Linked DNA regions of Homo sapiens. The protein of the gene in region 1 purifies or fractionates together with the protein of each later gene. This does not show direct contact. Each region holds a gene or a part of one and is shown in the gene's direction. Other genes may lie near its edges.

Region 1 (7,421 bases):
GCCTTGGGCAGGGCTGGATGGGCAAGTTGTCCAATGAGGCCCCCTCAGAACTGGAAAGCCTCCTTCTGGGTGTGGAGGTGGGCAGCAATCTGCCATTTGGCCCTGGGGTCATCTCTCTGGCTCAGTTTGCTTATCTGTGAGCCCAGATGTCGGCAAGTTCAGGCTGAGAATTAGAGCAAATAATGAAGAGGGAGCCCCTTTCCCAGGGCCTGGCTCATATGCACCGTGGACAACAAATACCAAAAAGGCTGGGCACGTGGCTCACACCCGGAATCTCAGCACTCTGGGAGGCCGAGGTGGGTGGATCACTTGACGTCAGGAGTTCGAGACCAGCCTGGCCAACATGGTGAAACCCCACCACTACTAAAAATACAAAGATTAGCCGGGCGTGGTGGCAGGTGCCTGTCATCCCAGCTACTCTGGTGGCTGAATGAGGCAGAAGAATTGCTGGAACCCAGGAGGCGGAGGCTGCAGTGAGCCAAGATCGTGCCACTGCACTCCAGCCTGGGCGACAGAGCAAGTCTCTGTCTCAAACAAACAAATAAACAAAAAAACTACTTTTCTTCTTTTCATTCCTAGCAAAAATCCCCTCTCTGGACAAATACTACTCAAGGTCAGAATCTCCCTTTGCCCCCAGTTTTTCATTGAGGAGGCTGAGGATCTGAGTCTCTCTCTTTTTTTTTTTTTTGAGATCCAATCCAGTCTCACTCTGTTGCCCAGGCAGGAGTGCAATGGCATGATCTTGGCTCACCACGAGTCTCTTTCTTAATAACCAACCCCATTACCGGGTCAGGAGAAGCTGCTGCGCTGTGGCTGCATCAGGGCCTAGAGCCGGGCTGCCTGCCTCTGCTGCCCTGTGTGCTGGCGGATAAGGTAGGGAGGTTTGTTATGCCTCAGTTTCCTTAAAGGTAAAATGGGGTGTCAGTCGTCTCTACCTTGTGGCCTGGTTTTGGTTAATGAACTAATCTACACACATAACAAGGGCTCAACAAAGGTTAGCGATGACGTTTCCTGCCAATCTGAGCACCTGCACACTGGAACCCTGTAAACAGTTGAGGGTGGGTGGCTGACTTCCAGTTCCCTTCAAATGCTTCTCTGAGTGTCTGCGCACCTGCGGCTCTCCAGGGGCTCGACTCAGGTCTCAGTGATCACAGATTCTAATGAAGAAAGGGTCTGTCTCTGTCATCCAGGCTGGAGTGCAGGGGGCACGTTCATGGCTCACTGCAGCCTCGACTCCCACCTAAGCCTCCTGAGTAGCTGAGACTACAGGTGTGCTGGACCACACCCAGCTAATTTTAATTTTGTTGCCCAGGCTGGTCTGTCAGTGAAGTTTTACACCAGTGAGACAAACATAATATTTGGGGCTCATCTAAAAGCTCAAAGTGAGGCTGAAGGAGCCATCCAATGTTTAAATGAAGAGGTACATCATAATTCATTTTTAATAAGTATGCAGAGCTGGGTGGCTCATGCCTCTAATCCTGGCATTTTGGGAGGCCAAGGTGAGAGGATCGTTGAAGCCAGGAGTCTGAGAGTGGCCTGGGTAACAGAATGAGACCCCATCTTTACTAAATAAATAATAAATAAATAAATAGCTGGGCGTGGTGGTGCATGCTTATAGCCCTAGCTATTTGAGAGGCTGAGGTGGGAGGATCCCTTCAGGGATCCTGCAGTGAGCTATGATCATACCACTGCACTCCTAGCCTGGGTGACGGGGGGACACCCTTTTTCTAATAGTAATAATAAATTATAAAATATATAAATTATAAAATGTGTGCTTATGATAAATCTAAACATTACTACCTAACATACATAGAAATTTTATTGTAATAAAATTTCTTTACCCTTGCCCATTCACTATCATATCTTCACAGAGCCTTCTGGACTTGTATCTGCCTATGTTGTTTTCTGTTTTTTTTTTTTTTTTATTTGTTTGTTTGTTTTGAGACAGAGTCTCGCTCTGTCGCCCAGGCCAGAGTGCAATGGCTAGATCTCAGCTCACTGCAACCTCTGCCTCCCGGGTTCAAGCAATTCTTCTGTCTCAGCCTTCTGAGTAACTAGGATTACAAGAGAGCACCAGCACGCCCAGCTAATTTTTGTATCTTGTTTTAGCAGAGGTGGAGTTTCACCATGGCTGGTCTGGAACCCCCGACCTCAAGTGATCCACCCGCCTTGGCCTCCCAAAGTGCTGGGATTACAGGTGTGAGCCACTGCATCTGGTCTTTTTTTTTTTTTTTTTTTTTGAGATAGAGTCTCACTGTGTCACCTAGGCTGGAGTGCAGTGGCACAATCTTGACTCACTGCAACCTCTGCCTCCCAGGTTCAAGCAGTTCTCTGCCTTAGCCTCCCGAGTAGCTGGGATTACAGGCGCCTGCACCACGCCAGGCTAATTTTTTTTTTGTATTTTTAGTAGATACGGGGTTTCACCATCTTGGCCAGTCTAGTCTTGAACTCCTGACCTCGTGATCCACCAGCCTCAGCCTCCCAAAGTGCTGGGATTACAGACAGGTGTGAGCCACCGTGCCTGGCCATTTTTTGTTTGTTTGTTTGTTTTAAATAAAGCACATCATTGTATATTCACTGCTCTGCACTATTTTTATTTTTTAATTTAACAGATCTTGGAGACTATATCCTATCTGTGTACACAGAATTATCACATCACAACTTTAGAAAATGTTTTAAATTAAAAATGCTAAATGAATGTTCTAGAGTTTATTTAACCAAGTGTCTGGTTGTTCTCAGGCTTCCTGTGATTATAGGTATAGCTGTAAGTCAGCACATCCCTGTATCCACACATCCCGTGGTGCCTGTGAGAATTTATCTGTGGCACAGATTACCCAAAATGACATGAGGGGTGAGAGGTTTTACAAATGGTGAATTCCACGAGCTTTGCAAATCTTAACTCCTTTTTCAAGAATAAGGGAACTGTGAGTAGGACAGGTGCACGGTACTTTCATTTTATTTTAGTCTAAGTATTTTCTGAAATAATTTGAGGAGGCTTAAAGGGAGGTGCAAGCTGGGTGCGGGGGCTCATACTTGTAATCCCAGCACTTTGAGAGGAGGAGGTGGGAGAATACTTGAGCTCAGGAGTTCGAGATCAGCCTGGGCAACACCGTGAGGCCCCATTTCTACAAAAAAAATTTTTTTTAAATTAGCCAGACATGGTGGTGTGTGCCTGTGGTCCCAGCTACTTGGGAGGCTGAGGTGGGAGGATCACTTGAGCCCTGGAGTTCAAGGCTTCAGCGAGCTATGATTGTACCACTGCACTCCAGGGTGGGCGACAGAGCAAGACCCTGTCTCAATAATAATAAAAATAAAAAAAAAAAAAAGGAAAAAAAGGGGCACAGTAGACAGTACCAGTACTTGGTATTTTAAATGGTTTTCAAATGAAGCCCACCCAAGCTCAGCAAGTCCAGCCGGGGCCTGAGGACCTGAGCAGGCGCCAGGTCACACAAGGTACCGGGCGCAGGAGGCGGAGCCCGCAGCGGGCCCTGCCCTGACAGCGGCACCTGCGCGGCCTCCGCAGGTTCTGGGATCGGCCGCTGGCCAGGTGCAAGGGAGGGGGGACGGCAGCCGCTGTCCTGGGGCTGAGAGGGCTCCGCGGTCTGGAGGGGACGGCGTCAGCGCCCGCGGGGGTTCGCAGGGCAGCCCCGGGGCGACCCCCACCCCCGCCACGGTCAAGTGTCGATACAGTGTTGCCAGCCGGGTGCCAACTATGAATAAGTCCAAGGGCGCGGCACGTGGGCCGAAACGCGATCCTTCCGCGGAGCCGCTGCGCGCAGGGCCGTCCCCACCGAGCCCGCCGCGCGGCGACCCCTGACGGCGACCCTAAGCCCCGGCCGACCAGGGCAGGAGCTCGCGCGCGAAACTTCCCCGGCGCCCGCAGGAGACCCCGGCAGGGGAGATGGCGGGGCCCAGGCAGAGCTCGGAGGCCCCTCCCGGCCCCACCCCGCGCCCCGGCCCCCTCTGCCCCCGACCCGGTCCGGGGGAGCCCTCGCGGGACCCCAGCCTGGTCCTTCGCCGCCTCCCCCCGTTCAGCCCCGACCCCCCTGATCCCCGCGCCCCCCGCGGTCCCGGCCCGCCCCCTCCCCCAGCCCGGGCCCCAGCCCCGTCCGTTAGCGGATCCCACGCAGGCTCCGCGCCCGGCCCCGCCGGCGCCCTCGGCCCACACCTCTCTCCGCGCGCGTGTCCCGCCGTGTCGCCCCCGTGTCCCCTCCGCGTCCCCCCCCGCGCCGTCCCCCCGCGTCCCCCCCCGCGTCCTTCCCCCGTGTCCCCCCAGCGTGTCCCTCGGCCGCCCCGCGCGCGCCGGCGGAACTGTGGGATCGCCGCGCACAGGAAGTGGCGGCGGCGGCGCGGCCGAGGGCGGAGGGCGGAGGGCGGCGGGATGGGGGCCGGGGGCGGCGGGCGCCGCACTCGCTGAGGCCCCGACGCAGGGCCGGGCCGGGCCCAGGGCCGAGGAGCGCGGCGGCCAGAGCGGGGCCGCGGAGGCGACGCCGGGGACGCCCGCGCGACGAGCAGGTGGCGGCGGCTGCAGGTGAGCACCGAGGCCCCCACCCGAGGTCGGGCCGCCCCCCTCTTCCCCCACGCCCCGCCGCCGCCCGAGGTCGCCCTCCCGCCGCCGGAGGTCGCCCCTGCCCCAGCCGTCCGACCTCGGGCCGCCCGGGGCCCCGCGCCGCAATGGGCCGGCCGCGCTCCGCGGGGCGCGGGGCCTGGGAAGGCGCGGGGCCGGGAGGAGGTCTGGGCCCGGGTCCTGTGCGCCCCCCGCAACCCCGGCCTCCCCGGCGGCCTGGTCCAGCGCGAGGCCCCGGCCGCTTCCCGCAGCAGCCTCGGTGGCGCTGGGCCCAGCGGGGAGGCCCGGGGGTTCGGGGCGCCCGGGAGGGGCCCGGGCCGGGCCGAGGGAGGGCGAGTGGGTTCCCGCGGGGACGTCCCATCCCTCCGTCCTGGACTCTGCTCCGGGCCCCGCTCGGCTCCCCCGTGGACAGGACGCGCCCGCCGCCTGGTTTCGGGGCGCGGCGGACCCGGGACCCCCCCCAGGGGCCTCCTCCTCGCGCGCCCAGGCCAAGGGAGCAGTTTCACTTTTGCCGCTCCGCGCGGGGAGGGCTGCGGGGCCCGGGGTTGGCTGTGGGTTCGGCCCGGAGACCGGCGGCGCGTTTGCACCGGGCGGGTCAGGGGATGGGGTCAGTCCGGGGGCAAGAGCCGTGGGGGCGAAAACCCACTCCTGGCCACCCCAGGACCCTTGGAACATTGGTCCCAAGTACTTAGGAAAGGAGGGTTATTAGTATTTGAAGGCAGTTAAAAATGGTGCAGTGTTTTTTTTTTTTTTTTTAACTTTGAGAGAAGTTTAGTGACATGGGGAAAATGCTTTTATAAATGGCTTCCCAGACCTTTAAAAAAAAAAAAGCACAATTTTAAAAGCTTTGTCTAGGAGAATACTTGAGCAGTTGGGTTCTTTTTCCTGGGAAACATGATCTTAGTAGAAGAAAGATGTGGGCTGTTGGCCTCCAGACAGAGGGTGATGAGCATGCGGCTCTTATTAAAAATGAAAGCCAACGCCGAGAGCCTGCTGGGGGCTGGGAGGTGGGGCGGGCGGCGGGCCCAGGCTGCTAGAGGGACCCAGGATCCTGCAGCTTTTAAATTGCAGGCGCGGCTGCTCCGACTCGACTCGCTTAGGAATTGCTGAACTTCGTCTTCTCAGTTTGAAAGCTTCAGAGGGGTCTCCCGAGGATGCTGAGCACTCTCTTGATTTGGCCACTTCTTTGCCGCCCCCCCTCCCTCTTTCCAACCAATCCTCCTCCCCCACAGAGTTCGGCGTTAGCCTGTGCCTGTTACAACTCGCTTCTTGTATCCATTTCTGGTTAGTCTTAAGTATCTTCTTGAGGACATTGTCTAAAAAGCAGCTGCATGCCATTGACATTCAGACAGAACAGGGCCCCTTGGCCTTAGAAGGTGTAGGGGCCTTAAATATTCTGAAGGTGACTTCATGGAGTGGCCGCCCTCTGTGGTCACCCTACCTGTGCGTGGCCCTGTCCTGGCGTATCTGCCAGGGGGACGCGCTGCAGCAGCCTGAAGACTGCTGGGTTAAAGGCAGTGTGGCCGGGTGGGAAAGTCCCCAGGAGTGTGGATTCTAGAACAGGCCTTCCTGGAGGGAGGGTGCTGCCCCGCCCCAGGCTGGGGCCCCAGTGCAGACTCCACGCTGGGGAGCTACACCCTGCGCCTGGACGCGCGTCTGTGTGCCAGGACTGGGGAAGCAAACTGAAAGTAATGGCTTTATTTTGGAAATTAGAAAAAGAGCATTCACCAAAGTAATCTGTTCCGTCCCTGCCGTAGACACGTGACTGATACACCTGCCTCCCATCCCCTCCGCACTTTGACCTCGTAAACAAGTGATCTGACACAACAGGGCTTGAGTTACTTGCCCGAGGTTGTGTCACGGAACGGCAGGGCCGCCTTTAGGCTTACATCCCTGGAACTCCCACCTCCACAGACCCGTCCGGGTGCTGAAAGTCCACGGATGCTATCCCTGGTCAAATCAGAGGTAGGTGGGAAATGTTGGAATTCTCCTAAACAGGGAAGGGGAAGATCAGAATGTGTGTTTGAGAAGAGCCTGATTTCCTGGATTCCTTTGGAGGAGGGGTGTCCTTAACTTGCCCAATCACATTTACCCTGTTCATCAATCTTCAGCCCCGCTTAGGCTCTCACATTGCAGACCCCACGGCAGAGCCCCTAGTGCTTGGCACTGAAGAGCCAGTGCAGGCCCGTTGTCACCATCAAAACCCACCTCTGGTAAATTCAATGGCTTCTGCTTCCACGCTTTGCCCCCCCTCTCTGGCCTTGTCAAAAACTCTTGTGATGTCCCTGTTATAAGGTATCGCCGGTGGACTGGTGTTTCTAGATCGCAGCGTGGGACGTGATTGGCTACATTTGACTGTTTCCTTTTTAATGACTTGTTTAATGTGAGATCTTTAGCTGCTCCATCTCATTGCAAGATTTTTGTTACAGTAAAGTTGGACTGAGTTTTCTAAAGACAGTTGCTCAGAAATTTCATGGGAATTTACTTTTGGTTAACCGAAGAGTGTTTGGGGTTTTAAACGGGTCGTTTCAAGTGGTAAAGTAACATGACCACGAGGCGTCTGTCCTTCCTAAAACCACTTCATCATAATTTCAAGATTGATTCTAAATTACCAATTTCAAAGCGCTGCATTTTAGGCAAGTGCATTAATCGTTCACCTTCTGACAGGCTTTCATGTAGTCATTTACAAGCGGCCATGTTTTGATTATCTTTGTCAAGCAAAGTGCAGGAGACAGGCAGTCTCATAACCTTGGGGCAGTGTCTGTGTTTAGTTTTGGAGGCGGGAAGGCCGAGTTGATGGTGAAAGTTGGCCATTCTTTCTGCAGGGCCAAAGTCTGTACCTGGCTATTAGGGT
Region 2 (7,414 bases), on another chromosome or scaffold:
TCCCAGGTACTTGGGAGGCTGAGGCAGGAGAATCGCTTGAACCTGGGAGGCAGAGGTTGCAGTGAGCTGAGATTGCACTACTGCACTCCAGCCTGGGTGATAAAGTGAAACGCCATCTCAGAAAAAAAAAAAAAAATCCCTTAAGGTCTATTGAGTGTCAGGACACCAAGTCCTACAAATGGGTCCTTTTTCTTTGTGGGGCCTATATCTAGGAGGCAGGGAACAGATTTCTAAACAAATCAGTGATATAATATGTTGTGGACTATAAGACAGAAATCTGTACCTGGGACAGAAAAGAAGAGTTAAATTCTTCTGGGAGTTGTCAGAAAAGACTTCATAAAGAAGGGACAAGGAGAAGGTGGGATGAGAGAAATGCAGAAAGAGAAAAAGGCGAACCTCGGAAGTGTGGGAAGACTTACTTAGGTCTAGCAGAATGGAAAGAAAATAAAATCAAATGAAGATCATTGAGAATTAGCAGTCAGAGAGAGAGAGAGAGAAAAAAAAAAAAGTAGGATAGAGAAGTGTCCTGAAAGATAAGGCTGGCTAACAAGGAAGGGCCATCACATGGGTGGTGCAGAGGGTCAAAGAGGATGAGGATGACTATTAAAGCTGAAGATCACATAGCTATGAAAGTTAGTTTTTATAGTGGGAGAGTTGGGGGAGAGAGTAGGTAGTGTTTGGAACTAGACCCACGGAAAAAGAGAAGGATAATGAGAAGGCTAGTGGATACACTATGGGGAGGGTTATAGGGAGCACATTTAAATATTAAAACAAGGAACAAGCCCGGCGTGGTGGCTCACACCTGTAATCCCAGCACTTTGGGAGGCTGAGGCGGGTGGATCACGTGAGGTCAGGAGTTCGAGACCAAACTGACCAACATGGAGAAACACCGTCTCTACTAAAAATACAAAATTAGCCAAACGTGGTGGCACATGCCTGTAATCCCAGCTACTAGGGAGGCTGAGGCAGGAGAATCGCTTGAACCTGGAGGCAAAGGTTGTGGTGAGCTGAGATTGTGCCATTGCATCCAGCCTGGGCAAGAAGAGTGAAACCCCATCTCAAAAAAAAAAAAACAAAAAAAACAAAAAAAAAAACACAAACACACAACACACAAAAAAACAATCAAATGAGAAGGCAAAAATCTCTTAGCTGCATGAATCATGATGGTGGGTTATCTTTGTTTTCTATACAGGTGTACTTGCCAAGTTCGGTCACTTCTTTCTACAGACACTGCCCCCTAGAACCCACTTCTTTCAAAATGTGAACTAGTGAAGGGCACCACCTACCATCTAGAGCTCTATCCAAGAGGGATGACATAGCACAGCCATTCAAGTCACAGGTTCTGGAATTAGACAGTCCTTCCCTAGCAATGTGACTATGTGAAAAATTATTGACTTATTTCCCCCCCCTTTTTTTCTTGAGATGGAGTCACTCTGTTGCCCAGGCTGGAGAGCAGTGGCGTGACCTCGTCTCACTGCAGTCTCCGCCTCTCGGGTTCAAGCGATTCTCCTGCCTCAGCCTCCCGTGTAGCTGGAATTACAGTCACCTGCCACCATGCCCAGCTAATTTTTGTATTTTTAGTAAAGACAGGGTTTCACCATGTTGGCCAGGCTGGTCTTGAACTCCTGACGTCAGGTGATATGCCTGCCTCGGCCTCCCAAAGTGCTAGGATTACAGGTGTGAGCCACCGCGCCCAGCCATTACTTTGGTTTTTCTAACATGAAAAATAAAGTAATAACCGTACTGGTCTCATAACGTTATTATGTGATTAAATGAGATAACGCATGTAATATGTTTAGAACATATCTGGCATATAGTTCTAGCACAAAAAATATTCGCTATTGAACAAGAACAGAAAAAAAGCAGGACCTTGTGCCAGCAAAGTATATGACTTCCCCTATTCCTGTATTCTTCAAGAGGTCTTGCACTGAATCAAGCAGATCCTTTAAAAAAGCAAGACATCAGGCTCAATAAACAGATTCACCTAGTGACAATAATATAGGCTTTGGAACCAGGCAGCCATGAGTCAAACTTTAGTGAAGCCATTTATAAACTTGATCTTTCTGAATCTCAGATTATATATTTGTAAAAATGAGGTTAATACTACCCACCTCTCAGGATTGTGAAGATTAAGATAGATTTCTAGTTGCAGACACTTAGCACATTTTACATAAATAAATGTTGACTAAGTGTTCTTGGAATTGAAATTGTGGTAAGATTTTACTCCTGGTGTCATTTTACCCCTGTGGGATTCTGCTCCTTCTCTGACCTCAACTTAGCTGTGAATTCTATTGTCCCCGCTGCTAGACTTTACTAACATTAACCACGTTGATTTTCATGCCTGGAGAGAAGAGGGATCATGCAGAACGGAACAGAGTACAGGAAGAGAAGGCTGCAACAACCACCACAACACCCTGGAGGGCACAGGGAGAGAGAAAAACTTCTGCCAGGCATTGCTGAGATAGAACACAGGTAGCACTCATCAACCTTGGTTCTGTTCACCCAAGCATCAAGTCCAGAAGACACTCCTTGCTACTGTTTCTCCTCTTTCTCGGTGCCTCAGTCCTGTCATGTAAGGAAATCAGACATAGGAGAAAAAAACAAAAAAAAAAAAAGAAGAAGAAGAAGACGAAAAGAAAAACCTCCCACATAGAAGTATGTTAAAAATCTATCTCTCTGGATGCTCGGTTCCTTTCTCGTTCTCATTAACTGATAGAAGGCCACTGACACCAACATTGGCCTAAGCTAAAATTGGTTTTCTTTTTCAGAGATTGTAGGTTGATTCTAGGTTGCAGAAAAGGCAAAATATTTTGCTAGAGGCATGGAATACAGATTAGGTTGGTGATGTCACAAAAGAGGTTTTCAACAGTGTCAGCAGAGGCTATAGTGATGAGTAAGGAAGTTGATAAACGGCAACATCTGAAATAGCTACTCGCCCTGAATAGGCAGGTGGAGAATATTAGTTACACGTGGGACAAATCCCATTATGAGACATATCATCACAACAAGAATATTTCATTCTAGATTTTAGAATCCCAGGTTTTGGCTCACTTTGGTCAAGAAAAATTATAAATAATTGAGTTACAGATAATTAAATGTTAGCCTCCTGGAGTGCATGGCAATTGGTTTTGACCTCTATATTAAAATTCACAAGACCACGGACATAAGTCAAAACAGGTCCCCTTCGTCTCCCTAGTCACCATCTCCAGGGCTAAAAAACAGACTTGAAATGGGTGGCAGTTAGACTACAGGAAACAGGATCTACAAGCACCAGGAGCTCATCTATGGCTATCTGACATCGCCTGGGGACACCTCACTCTCTGGCAGGCTCCTGCTGGCTGGAGATTGTTAACATCGCCAATCAGATGTTAATTGAATGCAAAGGAATAGGAAATAAATTCTGGTTCTGAAGGGGCAGCTGGAAAGGTGTTGGGCTTCTCAGATTCCAACCTACATTACAAAGCAGGCCTAAAGCCAAGCATACTCCTTGCCAGAAGAAACGGAAAGCCCCTCTCCCGTTTTTAGAATCAGGCTGGAAAACACGGCTCCCAGAAGGTGGGGTTAGAAAACAAGAGCTTGCGAGGCGGCGCCCTGTGGTCCCTCGAGGAAATAGTAGAGAGACAAAGAGGGCCTGCTCCTGGGAAGCCCTAAATTCGAAGCCAATCCTTCCTCCTAGACATGACCACAACTTTAAAGGGCAGGGCGCACACCTCCCCTCCCGGATCTCTAGGACAAAGGCAGGTCGAGGGTAAATATTTCTAGTTATTCAGTATATTCAGTGGCTAACTATTTATTTTGTGGGTACCAGACACCGACATAATCGGTTACGTCCTTCCCTTAATTCTCATAATTCTGAGGTTTGTGTTATTAACCCCCTATTATCTTTGGTCTACCCAGGGCAGCCAAAGAGGCGCAGAGAAGAATGACAAGGTGCCCAGCAAGCGGCAGGATCAAAGCCTGGGTCTCTAATTCCCAGGCTGGAGATTCTGGGCTGCCTGCTCCTCCTGCACGGGGCGAAAAGCCCACCTGGGATCCGAGCGGGCGGCCGCGCCACTCTCGCAGGCTCCATACACCCGCCACTACCCGCCTGTACCACCTGCAGCCGGCAGCGCAGCCTCCTCGCGGGTCCCGCAGGGCGCGCTGCAGGTGCGCTGGGCGTCCCGAAGCCCCGCCCTCGCGTCCCTGCCCCGCGCCCAGCTCCTCACGCTCGGTGCCCGCGCCCCGCAGCGGCAGCGCAGAACGCACCGCCTCTGCCAGAGCCCGGGAAGCGCTCGGGCGAAGAGGAGGAGCCAAGGGTACCGAGCGGGTGGAGTCGGGAGCCGGAGAGCGGTGGAGGCGGATTTCCTGGGCCCGGCCCTCTGGCGCTACCATGGCGTTTGGCAAGAGTCACCGGGATCCCTACGCGACCTCCGTGGGCCACCTCATAGGTAAGGAGGCGCGGGGAGAGACGCCCAGGCAGGCAGGGGACCGTGGGATCCTTTCCTGCTTGATCCATTCTCGGCCTGCAGAGGACGGAGTTAGTCCAACTTGAAAAAATTATTCCCCTCCCCCCGCAACTTTCCCAAGGCACCCGCATTCCACCCGGCCCCCTTTCGTCGTTTCCTTCTTGGCCAACTCACTGTAGAACCTCAGTCCTCAAAAATGTACCTTCCTTTCGATGCCGCCTGGGGAGTGGAACCAAACAGGTGAACCGCGGGAGTCAGGCATGGAGTGTTTGGGCCTCCACGAGGAGACACCAGAAACTTCTCGGTAGGGGAAGTTATTCCTAAAGGCACATTCTCCAGGGCACGGTATTGTTATGCCCGTTTTACAGATCAGAAGAGGAGGCTCTGGGAGACTAAGTGATGTGGCCTTACTGTGAGGGGCAGGTCTCCCCAAACCAGTTTTCTCTAGTGCCAAGCTTATACAACCTGGATTACTTTTCTGGGTAAACAAAGAGAATGAAAATGCTTGGCATTGGAGTGAAGAGGAGGGGAACATAGGAGCCATCTGGGGCCACGGAGGTCTCTCGCAGGCCACTAGGGACTACACCAGCATCCACCTAAATGATTTCTCTCTCCTCCGGATGTACCTTGCATGATGTATGTAGAAGCCAGTGATTGGACTCCTACCAGCACCAGCTCACTGCTCCTTCTTTTCCCTGATTCCTCCCTTGGGAATTGGGTGTGGCACGAGTGCATATTAATGCCAGGCAAAGTGTGATGATGTCAGGAACTTAGTGGGGTGATGAAATCGTGAGAACCTAGTAGTTGTAGTAAAGAGGCCCAGATTTGGAAAATTTAGATCACAGCTCTACTAACTGCTGTGACACCGAACACACCACTTAAACAGAACCTTAGTTTACACATCCTTATAAGATGGTCAGAGTAGCTACCATTGAGGAGATGCTTTCCCTTAATGGCTGTGCTTTTTTGGATATTAGAATGAACCCCAAGCAGAAATGGATTCAGACTGTGTCTTCATAGGCAAACGAAACTTCAGCAGTTCTTCTGCTTAATTTTTTAATTCTGTAAACATGGACTAACTGTCAGCTATGTGCCTGGACCTGGATCAGGCACTGGTGAGGCCAAGGTGAGACGTGGTCTCAAACCTGAGGGAACTCACTTTCTTGTAGAGAAGACGGGCACAGTTTTGTGTGGCACCTTTGCAATGCAAGAAAATGCAAAACACACAAAACTTAGGAGAAGGGAGAAATGAATTCTGCGTGGCTTTTGAAGGGTGAATAGGAGTTTTCTTTTCTAGGGAGGTAAGCTTTGTCCATTCGGTGCCAGATTCAAGTTTTTTGTTGTTGTTGTTTTGTTTTTGTTTTTGTTTTTGTTTTGAGACGGGGAGTGACACCCAGGCTGGAGTGCAGTAGCTCTCGGCACACTGCAACCTCCGCCTACCGGGTTCAAGCACTTCTCCTTCCTCAGCCTCCCGAGTAGCTGGGACTACAGGCACATGCCACCACGCCAGGCTAATTTTTGTATTTTTAGTAGAGATGGAGTTTCACCATGCTGGCCAGGCTGGTCTCGACCTCCTGACCTCAGGTGATCTACCCACCTCGGCCTCCCAAAGTGATTGGGATTACAGGCGGGAGCCACCGGGCCCCGCCTCAAGTGGTTCTTTTCCTGGATTGAAAGCAAGCTAAACTTTGGGGTTCCCCCAAGCAAGTCCTTATTCTTCCCCTTCTCTATCTTTTTTGTTTTTTTCTCCATTTCCCCCAGAACCCGGTGTTTTCATGCTTAGGGATCTTGTCCTTCTCTTAGGAAGATGTTAGCGCATTCATACTGAGTGTTCCATTACCCTTTCCAGATAACATCTTGTATTCTTAAAGCGGCTGTCTGGAGAGGGAAAGATGCCTGATTATCTAATCATAGGGTTCCAAGTGCAGAAGCATTCTGGTCAGCCTGGTGCAGCTGTGGTTAGTTTAGATGCTTATTATTATTAGTTCGGATAGTTATCCAGCGCCAGTTTGAAATAATTAAGGCTGAAAGTAAAAGTGTATGCAATGGAAGTTTTTACATAGTTGAGGTAAGCAGTGTCTTTGCAAGTATTGGTTGAAGTTATAATAATTGGTAAAATTAGAAGGAATCGTGAGATTAAGATGATAGGACAATAAACGTATTACTTTTATTTGGAGTTGTGCCAATGTTTTGGCTCCTAAGAACAACGGATTACTTCTCTCCTTTAAAAGTTCTTTCCTCCTGTCCCCCCAGAGAATAAATTATTTTTAAAAACAAACAGTGGGACCAAACAACCTAGATTTGAATGCCAATTCTACTTCATACTGACTGTATAACTTTGGTAATTTCCTAACCTCTCTGAACTTCTATCTCATCATCTCTCACAGTGGGTTAAATGAAATTGCGTATGATAAAATACTTAGCACTATGCAGTTCACCTTCTAGGTAGCTGCTCACTAAGCCCTAGTTCCCTTCTCTGAAAGCCAGGCAGGCGGAGATTTAGCTGGCCTGGCCTGGGCCTGTGGCCAGCTGTTGTGCTTGAGGTCTTTATTAATAGGTCACTCATTACTGTTGCTGCAGCAGCACTCTGAACTTGGGTTCTGATTGATTCCTGAATTACTGAGAACTGTTCCAAAAAAAATCACTTTGCCCTTTGGCAATGTAAACTTAATGACACTTGCTGGTGCAGCCTAGGCAGATTATTTCAGGAATACCAGACATTTTTTATTCTGTTGTAGCTCAGACTCAACAGCTTTTTCTTGGCAGAAAAGGCTACATTTGCTGGAGTTCAGACTGAAGATTGGGGCCAGTTCATGCACATCTGTGACATAATTAACACTACCCAGGATGGGTGAGTACAGCATGGTTTCCATGTATTTGCCTCTGACAAGAAGCATCAGAACTACAGCACGTTTTCTCTTGCAAATATTTCGGTTTTGTTGTTGAAAGAGTGTTTTCATCATTCATTA
Region 3 (7,061 bases), on another chromosome or scaffold:
CTTCTTCCTCCTTCCTTACCTGCTCACACCCTGCACTATTCCAAGAGGAAACTCAATCCCTGTCCAACATTTGCAGAATCATGGGGTTTACACAGTAGTGTTGTGAATAGATTGTGCGTGCCTGGGAACCAGGACCTCCCTCTCCCCACTATGTCAGGATAATAGCCTGCCTGCACCTGACCTGGCCAAGGTAATGCTGCACCATGTTGCTGAGCCCCACAACCATGGAATGTTGAGCAGGGGACTTTGGTGATCTTGGAGTCCAGCACCTTTATTTTACAGTGAAAGAAACTGGATCCAGGGAGGTGAATTGGTATTCCCGAGTCACATGGTTGCCAGTGGCCAAGAGACTTGATGGAGAAGACCAAAGAAGGGTTCTATTTTTGATCCTAAATGTGATTATGAAATTGCTGACACCTCCAGTCTTTGCTTGGAAACTAGAAGAGGAAGGGGCCATTTGTCCCTGTGCTTATTGAGGGAGGGGGTGTTAGTTTCTTCTGGAGGAGTCTCTTACTCTTTCCAGACTCCCTGGAGACATGGGAGGCTGGGGAGTGAGCAGGGAAGGGACCTGCTGCTCAGCCCAGCCGGGACTCACCGGGTGTCTGCAGTGGGGCTTCTCTGACCTCCAGGCTGGTGGGCTGGTGGAATGCCAGGAGATAAGGAGTCCAGAGTCCGCCCCATCGACTGTCGCCAGCCAGGGCTTCATGCCCACCTAGGGGACAGGAGGGCAGGCCCTAGAACACAGGGTCACGAAGCCCCACTATCTTGTTCCCCCCTCCCCCCACTACCGTGGGCATTAAACCTCTCAGGGGGCCCCTGGTTGGGCCTGGCAGAGGCAGAGACGCAGAGGCTGGGCCCTCTGACCTGCACAAGGAAAAGAGGCCGGGAAAGCCACAGAATTGGCCTGCCCAAGGGAGCCCAGAGTGCCCAGCCATGGGAAACCGAATTCTCCGCCTTGGCAACTGGAGATCGGACTGTTGTTAGAACTCCTAACCTCCCTCCAAGGGCAGGCCCCAGAGAATCTTGGGGCTTGGTGGAATGAGAAGGTGAATGCCCTACATTTATTACCGCCGAGTTCCTAATGGCCCTCGTAGGCAGTGCATTCAGTATTAGTAGTTAATAAAAAAAATCAGATAAAAGTTGGATATCTAAAAAAAAAATACATGTCTTTTTTTTTTTTTTTTTTTTTTTTTTTTTTTTTTTTTGAGACGGAGTCTCGCTCTGTCGCCCAGGCTGGAGTGCAGTGGTGCGATCTCGGCTCACTGCAACCTCTGCCTCCTGGGTTCAAGCAATTCTCTGCCCCAGCCTCCCAAGTAGCTGTGATCACAGGTGCCTGCCATCACACTTGGCTAATTTTTGTATTTTTAGTAGAGACGGGGTTTCACCATGTTGGCCAGGCTGGTTTTGAACTCCTGACCTCGTGATCTACCCACCTCGGCCTCCCAAAGTGCTGGGATTACAGGCATGAGCCACTGTGCCCAGCCAAATCATATCTTTTATCTTTTTTTTTTTTTTTGAGACGGAGCCTTGCTCTGTGGCCCAGGCTGGAGTGCAGTGGCACGATCTCGGCTCACTGCAAACTCTGCCTCCCGGGTTCAAGCCATTCTCCTGCCTCAGCTTCCCGAGTAGCTAGGATTATAGGCGCCCGCCACCACGCCTGGCTAATTTTTGTATTTTTAGTAGAGACGAGGTTTCACCATGTTGGCCAGGCTGGTCTCCAACTCCTGACTTTGTGATCCGCCCGCCTCAGCCTCCCAAAGTGCTGGGATTACAGGTGTGAGCCACTTGCACCCGGCCCCTTTATTTTATCTTTAAAACATGTATGTATTTTTATTCACCAAAACTTTGATTTAGGGCCAAGCCCTTTCCTTTGAGTCTTTAGATCCCTTATTTAGACTACTTAGAAATTGTTTGTATATAAAAATCATACTTAAATGTATTACCTGTAATTTCTCATTTCTTTCATTTTATTAAATTTTTTTTTCCTACTAGGCTCCGTATTCACATAGTTGAAAAATCAAGACGGTAAAAAACAGCAAAACCTTGTCTTCCCCCAGCTTTTCAATAAATGCTCCAAGGTAGCATTTTAAACATCATTCAGCACCTTGCTTTTTTCACCTAGCAACTATATTAAGATCTTTTCCATATCAGCACATAGAATGCTTTTAGCATTCTCTGTCATAGCTGTGTAGTATTGCATAGTATGGAAGTATCATCTTTTTTAACCAACACACATATCACCCTGTCTGCGCTTATGTTTGCAGAATATATCTGTGAAGTGGAATCGCTGGGTAAAAGGTTAAATCTGTTAATTAGCTTTCACTAAATAAAAAAATGAAGCGAAGACAAGAGATATTTGCAAAACAGCCATGTTCGGAATCCAGTTACTGCTTTTATGTACATACCTAGTTTAATTTCAGCTTTTTATTATTTTTCCATTTGCAACAAATCTTTCTAGATGAGTAATTCTCAAACTTTTTGATGCTAGGACCCCTTACATTGTCTTTTGTATATGTGGCTATCTGTATTGATAGTATATTAAAAATTAAAACTAAGTAAAGAAAAATTTTTTTGAGACATGGTCTCACTACGTTACCCAAGCTAGTCTTAAACTCTGGCTTCAAGCGATCCTTCTGCCTCAGCCTCAAGACTGAGAAATTTTAAAATAGTTATTTATTCATTTAAAAAGCAAAAATAAGGCGATTACACGTTAACATTAAAAAAAAAAATGTTTTGAACGGGCGCAGTGACTCACACCTATAATCCCAGCATGTTGGGAGGCCGAGCTGGGCAGATCACAAGGTCAAGAGATCCCGACCATCCTGGCCAACATGGTGAAACCTCGTCTCTACTAAAAATACAAAAAATTAGCTGGGTGTGGTGGTGCACGCCTGTAGTCCCAGCTACTCTGGAGGCTGAGGCAGGAGAATCGCTTGAACCTGGGAAGCAGAGGTTGCAGTGAGCCAAGATTACGCCACTGCACTCCAGCCTGGTGACAGAGCGAGACTCCATCTCAAAAAAAAAAAAAAAGTTTCATGAAAAATAACTATATTTTCCAAAATAAAGTAGTCAAAAGAATGGCCTTGTTAGCATATTTTTAGAAATTTCAGGATTTTAAAATAATTATTTATTGGATGATAATGAGATAACAGGTTATAATAGGTGTAACTTAAATTTGCTGTTAAGAAGTCAGTTAAAAGTTCTGAGAACAAATTGAGCTAATCTCTGAGACCACCTATATATTATATTATACCCTAAACTTCTACCTTAGAAATTTCTCAAAGACTCAAGATGACACAGGTACGTGTCACATTTCATGTAGCTTCTGAAAAGTGAGAGTGAAAAGCTTTTAATTTTTGTATATTAGAATAAAAATAGTCTTTTACTTCAGGGACCCCAGGTGTCATATAAGACAGTAATTTCAGAATTACTGTTCGAGATCACTTAGCTTAAATTTCTCAGAAGTCAGACATTTTTCTTTGCATTTATTCTTCAGGGTTTTTTGTTTTTGTTTTCTCGTTTTTTTTTTTTTTTCCAAGGCAGAGTGTCTCTCTGTCACCCAGGCGGGAGTGCAGTAGCGCAATCTCACCGCAACCTATACCTCCCAGGTTCAAGTGATTCTTCTGCCTCAGCCTCTCAAGTAGCTGGGATGCAGACACGCGCCACCACGCCCAGCTAATTTTTTGTATTTTTAGTGGACATGGGGTTTCGCCATGGTGGCCAGGCTGGTCTCGAACTCGAGCTCAAGTGATCCACCGGTCTTGGCCTCCCGAAGTGCTGGGACTGAAGTGCTGGGACTAAAGGCGTGAGCCACCGTGCCCAGCCCTCAGTTGTTATTTAAATAAATCATAATCATTTAAATAAATAGAACCTGCATAAAGAGGTTTGGGAATAGGCACAGCTGTTGGCATGGGAACCCTCAATGGTGACAGCAGGTGGTGGGGTTGGGGGGAGGTTGGCCACCTGGCGAGGGGCCTGTTGGCTGCAGGGAGGGACTGGAGACCTGGGGTCCTTGAGCAGTCCAGTGGCGCTCAGCTAAGAGAGCTGCTGAGTACCATCTCCATTCCCGAGATGCTTGTGAAATGTGTGAGGAGCTATGCATGTGTGGAAAGTCAGATGCAGGATGGCCTTCCTGAAGCTGCAGTAAGTGGAACAGAGGAGGGGTACTGGGTGAGGCCAGAGGAGGGAGTGGCAGGAGGTGACAGAGAAGGCTTCTTGGGGAGGGACTGAGCCACATCTTGAAAGCTAGGAAGCGGGAGAGAGAGCAGGGTCCTGGTAAGGAGAGCCGTGTGAATGCTGGTGGGATGGTACACGTGGCCCAGAGTGGCTGAGAGGGAGCAGCAAGTGAGGTAGCTGGAAATGTACGTTGGGTCTAGGAGTCTTGAATGGCTCGGGTGTCTAAGGTACGAGTGTTCTCTTGGAACTCAGAGCTGTTTCCATATCAGAGACTTGCCAGCAGCCCTCTGTCTTGGGGTGCAGCCTGCCAGCCTGCTCTTTTTTTTTTTTTTTTTTTTTTTGAGACAGGGTCTCACTCTGTTGCCCAGGCTAGAGTGCAGTGGGTATGATCTCAGCTCACTGAAACCTCCCCTCCTGAGCTCAAGCGATTCTCCCATCACAGCCTCCCAGGTAGCTGGGACTCCAGGTGCACACCACCACACCTAGCTAATTTTTGTGTTTTTAGTAGAGATGGGGTTCCACCATGTTGGCCAGCCTGGTCTCGAACTCCTGACCTCAAGTGATCCACCCGCCTTGGCCTCCCAGAGTGCTGGGATTACAGGCGTGAGCCACCGCGCCTGGCCAGCCTGCTCTTATCTGGAGCAACTCCATGGCCCCACGTCCATGTCCTCTGTACCAGTCCACTTCCTCCAGCCTCCTGCCACCTTCCTTAGCCCTCAGAAGCATCTAGCAGCCTCCTTTCCAGTCTGAACACAGCCCTTAGAAGTCTCTCCCAGAAACTGTAATAGATGTGATTAACTATACACAGAATTCCCCCAAACAATTGTTTGGTATTTTTGTCGACTTTATTTCCTTCTGATTATTAAAAGTAATGCATGCATATTGTAAAGTGCAAAAAAGTATTTGGGGGAAAGTCGATAATCCTGCTGCAGTCTCTCTTTACATATTGGCATATTTCCTTACAGTTGTTTTTTTTTTGGGGGGAGGGGATACAATTGGCTATCTACACCCATCTTACCTCGACATCAAAATTTCTCCCTAAGCATTTATTCTGCCTTATGGCTGTATCTTTTTTTTTTTTGAGACGGAGTCTCACTCTGTTGCCCAGGCTGGAGTGCAGTGGCACAATCTCGGCTCACTGCAACCTCCGCCTCCCAGGTTCAAGCAATTCTCCTGCCTCAGCGCCCCCTAATAATAGCTGGGATTACAGGCATGCACCACCATGCCCGGCTAATTTTTGTGTTTTTAGTAGAGGTGGGGTTTCGCCATGTTGGCCAGACTGATCTCAAACTCGACCTCAGGTGATCTACCCGCCTTGGCTTACCAAAGTGCTGGGATTACAGGCATGAGCCACTGCACCCAGCCATGGCTGTATCTTAGTTTGCTTAACCATTTCCTTTTATTTTAAACTTTTCTTTTGAACTAATTTTAGATGTACAGAAGAGTTGCAAAAATATAGCAGAATTCCTTTATATTCCTCACCCCAGAGTATAATTATATAATCAGGAGCAGGAAATCAACATTGGCATAACACTGTTAACTAAACTGCAGGCCTTATTTAAACGTCACCAATATTTTCACTAATGTCCATTTGCTGTTTCCAGGATCTGATATGGGATCCCACACTGTTTAGTTATTTCTCCTTAGTTTGCTGCAATCTGTGGCAGTCTCTCCCTCTTTTCTTGCTAGAATGTTGGAACGCAAAGTGATGTTGCATCCTTTAGAGGTATTCATCATGTCACAGTTTTTTGTTGTTGTTGTTAATTTTGAGACAGGGTCTCACTCAGTGCACAGGCTGGAGGGCAGTGGTGTGATCTCGGCTCTCTGCAGCCTCCACCTCCCAGTTTCAAGCAATTCTCCTGCCTCAGCCTCCCAAGTAGCTGGGATTACAGGCATGAGCCACCACACCTAATTTTTTTTTTTTTTTTTTTTGTATTTTCAGTAGAGACAGGGTTTCACCATGTTGTCCAGGCTAGTCTTGAACTCCTGAGCTCAAGTGATCCACCCACCTCAGCCTCCCAAAGTGTTGGGATTATAGGCGTGAGCCACTGCACTCGGCCATGTTGGAGTATTTTTTTACTGGTGACATTTATCTAGATTGGCTGGTGTCTGCTTGATTTCCACACTGAAAAAAGGTGGGTTTTCTGTTGTTGTTGTTTTACAAAAACTGAATGGGGCCAGGCACGGTGGCTCACACCTATAATCCTAGCATTTTGGGAGGCCGAGGCAGGCAAAGGCCGACGTCGGGAGTTCAAGACCAGCCTAGCCAACATGGTGAAACCCCATCTCCACTAAAAATACAAAAATTAGCCAGGCATGGTGACATGCACCTGTAATTGCAGCTACTCGGGAGGCTGAGACAGGAGAATCGCTTGAACCTGGGAGGTGGAGGCTGCAGTGAGCTGAGATGGAGCCACTGCACTCCAGCCTGGGCAACAGAGTGAGACAATGTCTGGGGAAAAAAAAAATACTGAATGGATAAACTGAAGAAGTTATCTTTCTTTCCCTTTGTAGTTTCAGGAGATACTTTGAGACTATGCAAATCCTGTTTCTCCTTGTACTTTCATCCCCTAATTTTAGCACCCATCTGTAGACCCTGCTTGCAACAATGATGACTGTGATGTTTGACTAATGATTCTCTATTTCCCTCTTGTACATTTATTTATTGGAATTCTTTGTAAGCAAGAGCTGGCCCTGCTTCCCCATTTATTTATGCATTTGGTTATTCATAATCAGATTTTGTTCTGTGGGTTAAAGTTGAATAATATTTTTTGAGGCTCAAATTGTTCTAGCTTTGACCATTTTGGGAGCTCCTTCCGGTTGTCTCCTGTGTTCTTCTGGTAAGCCCCTGCCATTTTTTTTTTTAAGTGTTTCCTTAATTTCCT
Region 4 (7,979 bases), on another chromosome or scaffold:
ATAGGCCAGAACCCTGAACAGTTTACTTTTTAGGCATCATATTTGCTAAAAACAAAACAAACAAAAAAACCAAACCAAACAAAGAAGTAAAAATCAAAACAAACAAAAAACACAGAGCCATTTTTTGGAAAGACAATAATAGGAAGTCAAAATAATGTTAATTTTGGAGTTATTATTGTTTATTTTATTTTATTTTATTTTTGAGATGGAGTCTCCCTCTGTCCCAGGCTGGAGTGCAGTGGCGTGATCTCGGCTCACTGCAACCTCCGCCTCCCGGGTTCAAGCGATTCTCCTGCCTCAGCCTCCAGAGTAGCTGGAATTACAGGCGCATGCCACCACGCCCGGCTAATTTTTGTATTTTTAGTAGAGACGGGCTTTCAGTACGTTGGCCAGGCTGGTCTCGAACTCCTGACCTCGTGATCCACCCACCTCGGCCTTCCAAAGTGGTGGGATTACAGGCGTGAGCCACCAAGCCCGGCAGCTTGAAGTTATTCTTACATGCTTTGGCAGATGTTAAAACGTTTGTTTTTTTTAAAATTCTCAACATTTAGATCTAGGACAGAGCACAATTTAAATACTTTCTAAAATTAAATTTGGCTGTTACATAAGATTCAGCATTGTTTACAGCAGCTTTTCTGTTTCATGCGTTATAATATAAGATAAAGTAGAAAGAACACCAAAGGTTTTCCTATGATAAGTCATCAACAAAATAAGTGTGGGCCATTAGCAAGTAGCTCTTGATATCTTACAGTGGGCTGAACAACAAATACTTTCTCTTGAAGAATTTGGATCCCTGTTAGCTAAGCTTAAAGTTCCCACTATTTTATTTTATTATTTTATTTATTTATTTATTTTTGAGACGAAGTCTCACTCTTGTCCCCCAGGCTGGAGTGCAATGGCGCAATCTTGGCTCACTGCAACCTCCGCCTCCCAGGTTCAAGCAATTCTCCCTCAGCCTCCTGAGTAGCTGGGATTACAGGCATGTGCCACCACGCCAGGCTAATTTTTTTTTTTTTTTTTTTGAGACAGAGTCTCGCTCTGTTGCCCAGGCTGGAGTGCAGTGGTGCGATCTTGGCTCACTGCAAGCTCCGCCTCCCAGGTTCACGCCATTCTTCTGCCTCAGCCTCTGGAGTAGCTGGGACTACAGTCGCCTGCCACCACGCCCGGCTAATTTTTTTTGTATTTTTAGTAGAGACGGGGTTTCATTGTGTTAGCCAGGATGGTCTCGATCTCCTGACCTCGTGATCCGCCCGCCTCGGCCTCCCAAAGTGCTGGGATTACAGGCGTGAGCCACTGCGCCTGGCCTCGCCTGGCTAATTTTTGTATTTTTAGTAGAGACGGGGTTTCACCATGTTGGCCAGGCTGGTCTTGAACTCCTGACCTCAGGTGAGCCATCCGCCTCGGCCTCCCAAAGTGCTGGGATTACAGGCGTGAGCTACCGTGCCCATCCAAGTTCCCACTTTTTTTTTGAGATGGAGTCTCGCTCTGTCGTCCAGGCTGGAGTGCAGTGGTGCGATCTCGGCTCACTGCAACCTCCACCTCCCAGATTCAAGCGATTCTCCTGCCTCAGCCTTCCCAGTAGCTGGGATTACAGGTGCCCACCACCACACCTGGCTAATTTTTGTGTTTTTAGTAGAGACGGGGTTTCAACATATGTGTAGGGTCCAGCCCTACGGGGCTTAGCATGTGTTCTCCCCCTGTGTGGAGACTAGAGATTGTAATAAATAAAGACACAAGACAAAGAGATAAAGAGAAAACAGCTGGGCCCCAGGGACCACTACCATCAAGACGCGGAGACCGGTAGTGGCCCCAAATGGCTGGGCTCGCTGATATTTATTGTATACAAGACAAGGGGGCAGGGTAAGGAGGGTGAATCTTCTAAGTGATTGACAAGGTGAAGCAGGTCAGGTGATTACAGGATAGGGGGCCCTTCCCTTTTAGGTAGCCGAAGCAGAGAGAGAAGGCAGCATACGTCAGCGTTTTCTTCTCTGCTCTTATAAGAAAGATCAAAGACTTTAAGACTTTCACTATTTCTTCTACCTCTATCTACTACGAATTTCAAAGACGAACCAGGAGTATGGGAGGAGCATGAAAGTGGACAAAGAGCGTGAGCATTGAAGCACAGCACCACAGGGAGGGGTTTAGGCTTCTGGATGACTGCGGGCAGGCCTGGATAATATCCAGCCTTCCACAAGAAGCTGGTGGAGCAGAGTGTCCCCTGACTCCTCCAAGGAAAGGAGACTCCCTTTCGCGGTCTGCTAAGTAACGGGTGCCTTCCCAGACACTGGCGTTACCGCTTGACCAAAGAGCCCTCAAGAGGCCCTTATGCGGGCGTGACAGAAGGCTCACCTCTTGCCTTCTAGGTCACTTCTCACAATGTCCCTTCAGCACCTGACCCTATACCCGCCGGTTATTCCTAGGTTATATTAGTAATGCAACAAAGAGTAATATTAAAAGCTAATGATTAATAATGCTTATAACAATGATTGATAATTGTTCATGACCATCTCTATATCTAATTTGTATTATGACTATTCTTATTCTAACTATTTTCTTTTTTATACTGAAACAGTTTGTGCCTTCAATCTCTTGCCTCCGCACCTAGGTATTCCTCCGCCCACACATATGTGGGGGAAAGGAAGCGAGATCAGACTGTTACTGTGTCTATGCAGAAAAAAAGAAGACATAAGAAACTCCGTTTTGATCTGTACTAAGAAAAATTCTTCTGCTTTGAGATGCTGTTAATCTGTAACTTTAGTTCCAACCCTGTGCTCACAGAAACATGCGCTGTATTGAATCAAGGTTTAAGGGATTTAGGGCTGTGCAGGATGTGCCTTGTTAACTATATGTTTGCAAGCAGTATGCTTGGTAAAAGTCATCGCCATTCTCCATTCTCTATTAACCAGGGACATGATGCACTGTGCAAAGCCACAGGGACCTCTGCCCGAGAAAGCCTGGGTATTGTCTCCCCGACTGAGACAGCCTGATATGGCCTTGTGGGAAGGGAAAGACCTTACCATCCCCCAGCCCGACACCCGTAAAGGGTCTGTGCTGAGAATTAGTAAAAGAGGAAGATCTCTTTGCGGTTGAGATAAGAGGAAGGCCTCTGTTTCCCGTATGTCCCTGGGAATGGAATGTCTTGGTGTAAAGCCCACCAGTCATTCTATTCTGAGATAGGAGAAAACTGCCCTATGGCTGGAGGTGAGATATGCTAGCGGTGATACTGCTCTGTTACTCTTTGCTACACTGAGATGTTTGGGTAAAGAGAAACATAAATCCAGCCTACGTGCACATCCGGGCACAGTACCTTCCCTTGAACTTATTTATGATGCAGATTCCTTTACTCACATGTTTTCCTGCTGACCTTCTTCCCACCATCACCCTGTTCTGCCGCAGTCCCCTTGCAGAGATAGTGAAAATAGTAATCAGTAAATACTGAGGGAACTGAGAGACCAGCGCCGGTGCAGGTCCTCGTATACTGAGTGTGCCGGTCCCCTGGGCCCACTGTTCTTTCTCTATACTTTGTGTCTTATTTCTTTTCTCAGTCTCTTGTCTCCACCTGACGAGAAATACCCACAGGTGTGGAGGGGCAGGCCCCCTTCAAACATGTTGGTCAGGCTGACCTGGAACTCCTGACCTCAGGTGATCCTCCAGCCTCGGCCTCCCAAAGTGCTGAGATTACAAGCGTGAACCACTGTGCCTGGCCCTCACCCCAGTTTATAGATGGGGGACCTAACGCACCCAAAGGGAACTGTGTGAGTTCTCACATCCAATGAGGGGCTGAACCGTGATTGAAACCCAGCACCGTCTCACTGTGGCATCTCTGCCCTTGAGTTATCTCCCAAAGGCATCCCAACCAGACTTTTCATAACCAGTCCCAGAATCTCACCAGTGCTCCATAGCTGTGGTTGAGGCACTGTCCCCAAGCCTGGGTCCTGAGACCCTACCAGCAGAAGAACCACTGCCTGTCCAGCCCCTCCTACACAGCTCAGGGGCTGGATCCCCACCAGTGTGATGTGCTGATTGAGCTAACACCACTCCATGGCTGTCTACACAGGCACTGAGAGATGCAATCCGTTGGCTTGAGAGCCGGGCAGCTGAGCCCAGGAGAGCAGGGTCCCCTCCCAGCCCTTTGGCCTCTTCCAGACCTGCCCAGTTGCTCCTTCTCCCTCCCTCCTTTCCTGGGGTCACTTCTTCTTCCCTCCTCAGTCTCTCCTTCCTCCATTCCCTGGGTGCCCGCCCCTGCCCCGGGGTTCTGGACCTCCTTGGAACCTTGGATTCACTCTCTGCCTCTCACCCACGCTCTTTCTCTGGGGCGTCTCCTCGTGCTTCTCTCATGGTCACTTCACCAGGACCGACTCCTCCCCGGAGCCTGGAGGCACCCACTTGCTGGTGGGAGAGAGTGTCTGGCGTGGGGCCAGTCTCCCTCTCTGGGTCTCTGCCTCACTCCTCACTGCACCCTCTCATGCCTGTCAGTCTTTCTACCTCTCCCCCTTTTTGCCTCGGTTTCCCCATCCCTCTGTCCCTTCTTAAGCTCTCATCCTTACAGTACGCTAGAAGGCAGGCTCTATTATCCTTTAGGATTTAGGCCTCTTTAGATAAAAGGGCTCACAGGCTTGGAGGGTTTTAAGTGACTTACCCGGCGGCGGAGTACTGATCTTAGTACCGCCCGCCGCCCCGGACTGCCCCGCCCCTCCCTAGCCCCCCCATCCCCGCCCCTCCCTAGCCCCCCCATCCCCGCCCCTCCCTAGCCCCCCCATCCCCGCCCCTCTCCCGCCCCTCCCTTGTCCCCGCCCCTTCCCGCCCCAACTCAGGTTCTGCCCCACCCCGCCCCAATTCACGTCCTGCTCCGCCCCGACGTAGGCCCCGCCCTGGCCCCCGGGCCCCGCCCCCGTCTGACGCAGGCCCCGCCCCCTCTCCGCCCCGCCCCGGCTCGGGCGGCCGGAGGACCCGGAGCTAAGGCGCCCGAACCCGCGGCGGCGGTGGGGACGATGTGGTTCTTTGCCCGGGACCCGGTCCGGGACTTTCCGTTCGAGCTCATCCCGGAGCCCCCAGAGGGCGGCCTGCCCGGGCCCTGGGCCCTGCACCGCGGCCGCAAGAAGGTGAGTGCGGCCGAGCTCCGTAGGCCGCGGTCGACCTGGGCCTTGCCTATTCCGCGCCGCCGACCCCGTCGCGTTGCGCCCGGCCTGACGTGGCGGCGGAACCAAGGGGTAGCAGGCCGGGGAGGGGGCGGGCAGTGCCTACGTGGCGGGCGGAGGGACCGAGGGACCGACAGGCGGACAGGGCCGGGGTCACGTGGGCCCGGCGAAGTGTCCCTAAGGCTGACCTGGGGAGAGACCTGGCTGCGGGCCCTTGTCTTCCGGCCACACAACAGCTCTGGGACCATCTCAGGCCCCGCTGCCCTCCCCTAGGCCACAGGCAGCCCCGTGTCCATCTTCGTCTATGATGTGAAGCCTGGCGCGGAAGAGCAGACCCAGGTGGCCAAAGCTGCCTTCAAGCGCTTCAAAACTCTACGGCACCCCAACATCCTGGCTTACATCGATGGACTGGAGGTACCTGCTGCCTTGCCTGCCCGTCTCTGCCCCTCACGATGTCCTGGTTACCCACTCCTGTCTCCCCTCCTGCCCTGTTTCCACCCTATGTGCCCCAGCACCCCCAGATTTGGTTTCCTCTTCCCCATCTCTCCCAACTTCAAGTCGCTTATCTCTCCTTCCTCTCTGCCCCTCCGCCCTTGATAACCCTGTGTCCCCTTCCCCAGACAGAAAAATGCCTCCACGTCGTGACAGAGGCTGTGACCCCGTTGGGAATATACCTCAAGGCGAGAGTGGAGGCTGGTGGCCTGAAGGAGCTGGAGATCTCCTGGGGGCTACACCAGATCGTGGTGAGGTGGGGGGCAGTGGTGATGAGAGCAGGGATGGGGGGTTGCAGGTGCTGGGGCGTGATGGCTCCTTTTGCCCCCAGAAAGCCCTCAGCTTCCTGGTCAACGACTGCAGCCTCATCCACAACAATGTCTGCATGGCCGCCGTGTTCGTGGACCGAGCTGGCGAGTGGAAGCTTGGGGGCCTGGACTACATGTATTCGGCCCAGGGCAACGGTGGGGGACCTCCCCGCAAGGGGATCCCCGAGCTTGAGCAGTATGACCCCCCGGAGTTGGCTGACAGCAGTGGCAGAGTGGTCAGAGAGAAGTGGTGGGTGACTGGGGGCAGCGCGCCCCAACCTGCCCTGTCCTGGAGGCCCCTGCAGCCTCAGGACTCCTAGACTAGTTGGCACTCCCCTGTTCCCTGCTGCCTGGCTGGGGAGGGAATCAGTGTCCCAGGAGTGAGGGACACTCCTCTGCCCCCAGGGTCCTCAGGGCGGTAGGGCGGGATGGACACAGCATTCGGGGTTGGGTGATTCTGAACTTGAAAGCTCTGTGACCTGGACAGATGTGCCTAGTTCTCTGAGGCTTGGTTTTTTTAATCTGTTAAGTGAGGCTAATGAAACCTGCCTCTTGGGACTGATGGCTCAGCTGAGGGACATAGCCAGGCCCTGGCATGCAGTGGGTGCCTGGTGCCCAAGGCAGGCTGGAGGCCTGTGCAGGTGGTTGGTGGGGCCCTAAGAGCTCTGGGTCACTGCCACAGGTCAGCAGACATGTGGCGCTTGGGCTGCCTCATTTGGGAAGTCTTCAATGGGCCCCTACCTCGGGCAGCAGCCCTACGCAACCCTGGGAAGGTAAGTTTCTTGCCCCTGGCTCTTTGCCCTGCCTCAGCCCCTCTGCCAGCTGGCTACCCCTGCCCTGACACTGACCCCTCCCCTACAGATCCCCAAAACGCTGGTGCCCCATTACTGTGAGCTGGTGGGAGCAAACCCCAAGGTGCGTCCCAACCCAGCCCGCTTCCTGCAGAACTGCCGGGCACCTGGTGGCTTCATGAGCAACCGCTTTGTAGAAACCAACCTCTTCCTGGAGGAGATTCAGGTGAGCCCCCAACCCACCCTGGGCTTCGACCCTATCTTTTTCATTCTGCCCCTACCCTGCTTTTCAGGGTACCTCACAATTGACCCTCAGGAGACAAGCATGGACTGTGGAGTTAGGCCAATCCGGGTTCAAACCCAGGCTCCAGCTCATACTTACTCTGTGACTTCCCTTGGCTGAAGTTCAGTCCCAATAATAGTACAGGTTGAGCATCCCTAATCCGAAAATGCATGATCTACTCCAACACTGGAAACTTTTTGACCACCAACATTACAATCCAAGGAAATGCCCATTAGAGCATTTTGCATTTCAGATTTTTTTGGATTACAGATGTTAAATTGGAGCCAGGCGCGGTGGCTCATGCCTGTAATCCCAGCACTTTGGGAGGCTGAGGTGGGTGGATCACCTGAGGTCAGGAATTCGACACCAGCCTGACCAACATGGAGAAACCCCATCTCTACTAAAAATACAAAAAATCAGCTGGGCGGGCATCTGTAATCCCAGCTACTCCAGAGGCTGAGGTAGGAGAATCACTTGAACCCAGGAGACGGAGGTTGCAGTGAGCCGAGATCGTGCCACTGCACTCTAGCCCGGGCGACAGTGTGAGACTTCGTCTCAAAAAAAAAAAAAAAAAAAAGATGTTGAATTGGTATAATGCACATATTCCAAAATCCAAAAAACATCTGAAATCTGAAACACTTCTGGTCCCAAACATTTTGGACAAGGGAGACTCAACCTGTACCTACTTCAAAGGGACCCAGTGAGGAGTCAGAATTGAAAATGTGTGGTATAGTGTTCTGTGCCCAGCAGGCATTTAGGGCCAGCTCTGGTTACTCCAGTCACTCCACGTGTACATTCTGGCTCTGGTCCCCAGGGGTGTAACACCCTGTACTGGCTGCAGGGGGGTGGGCAGCACGGTGTGGAGGAAGGTGAGGCGGACCTAGATCACTGTCCTCAAGAATCTAGCAAAAAGTAAACAGACCAGATCCCCAACCTTGGGAACTCTTGCTGGGGAAGAGACAGAAAA

What was found.
Region 2: the proteins of AGPAT3 (region 1) and TOM1L1 purify together in Homo sapiens (affinity purification with mass spectrometry; 2 studies listed by BioGRID and IntAct, with this or other methods). This does not show direct contact.
Region 3: the proteins of AGPAT3 (region 1) and SLC39A14 purify together in Homo sapiens (affinity purification with mass spectrometry; 2 studies listed by BioGRID and IntAct, with this or other methods). This does not show direct contact.
Region 4: the proteins of AGPAT3 (region 1) and SCYL1 purify together in Homo sapiens (affinity purification with mass spectrometry; 2 studies listed by BioGRID and IntAct, with this or other methods). This does not show direct contact.

What each region holds. Positions count from the first base shown.
Region 1 is NC_000021.9:43,860,815-43,868,235, forward strand, and holds the start of AGPAT3 (1-acyl-sn-glycerol-3-phosphate acyltransferase gamma), read left to right. Parts: upstream 1-4,408; 5' UTR 4,409-4,531; exon of another isoform or gene 4,532-5,851; intron 5,852-6,324; exon of another isoform or gene 6,325-6,508; coding exon of another isoform or gene 6,509-6,532; intron 6,533-7,421. UniProt on the Homo sapiens protein: Converts 1-acyl-sn-glycerol-3-phosphate (lysophosphatidic acid or LPA) into 1,2-diacyl-sn-glycerol-3-phosphate (phosphatidic acid or PA) by incorporating an acyl moiety at the sn-2 position of the glycerol backbone.
Region 2 is NC_000017.11:54,896,497-54,903,910, forward strand, and holds the start of TOM1L1 (TOM1-like protein 1), read left to right. Parts: upstream 1-4,355; 5' UTR 4,356-4,369; coding exon 4,370-4,427; intron 4,428-7,211; coding exon 7,212-7,296; intron 7,297-7,414. UniProt on the Homo sapiens protein: Probable adapter protein involved in signaling pathways. Interacts with the SH2 and SH3 domains of various signaling proteins when it is phosphorylated. May promote FYN activation, possibly by disrupting intramolecular SH3-dependent interactions.
Region 3 is NC_000008.11:22,370,247-22,377,307, forward strand, and holds part of SLC39A14 (metal cation symporter ZIP14 isoform a precursor), read left to right. Parts: intron 1-7,061. UniProt on the Homo sapiens protein: Electroneutral transporter of the plasma membrane mediating the cellular uptake of the divalent metal cations zinc, manganese and iron that are important for tissue homeostasis, metabolism, development and immunity.
Region 4 is NC_000011.10:65,520,163-65,528,141, forward strand, and holds the start of SCYL1 (N-terminal kinase-like protein), read left to right. Parts: upstream 1-4,920; 5' UTR 4,921-4,991; coding exon 4,992-5,102; intron 5,103-5,391; exon of another isoform or gene 5,392-5,411; coding exon 5,412-5,552; intron 5,553-5,758; coding exon 5,759-5,881; coding exon of another isoform or gene 5,882-5,886; intron 5,887-5,961; coding exon 5,962-6,188; intron 6,189-6,620; coding exon 6,621-6,711; intron 6,712-6,799; coding exon 6,800-6,955; intron 6,956-7,979. UniProt on the Homo sapiens protein: Regulates COPI-mediated retrograde protein traffic at the interface between the Golgi apparatus and the endoplasmic reticulum. Involved in the maintenance of the Golgi apparatus morphology.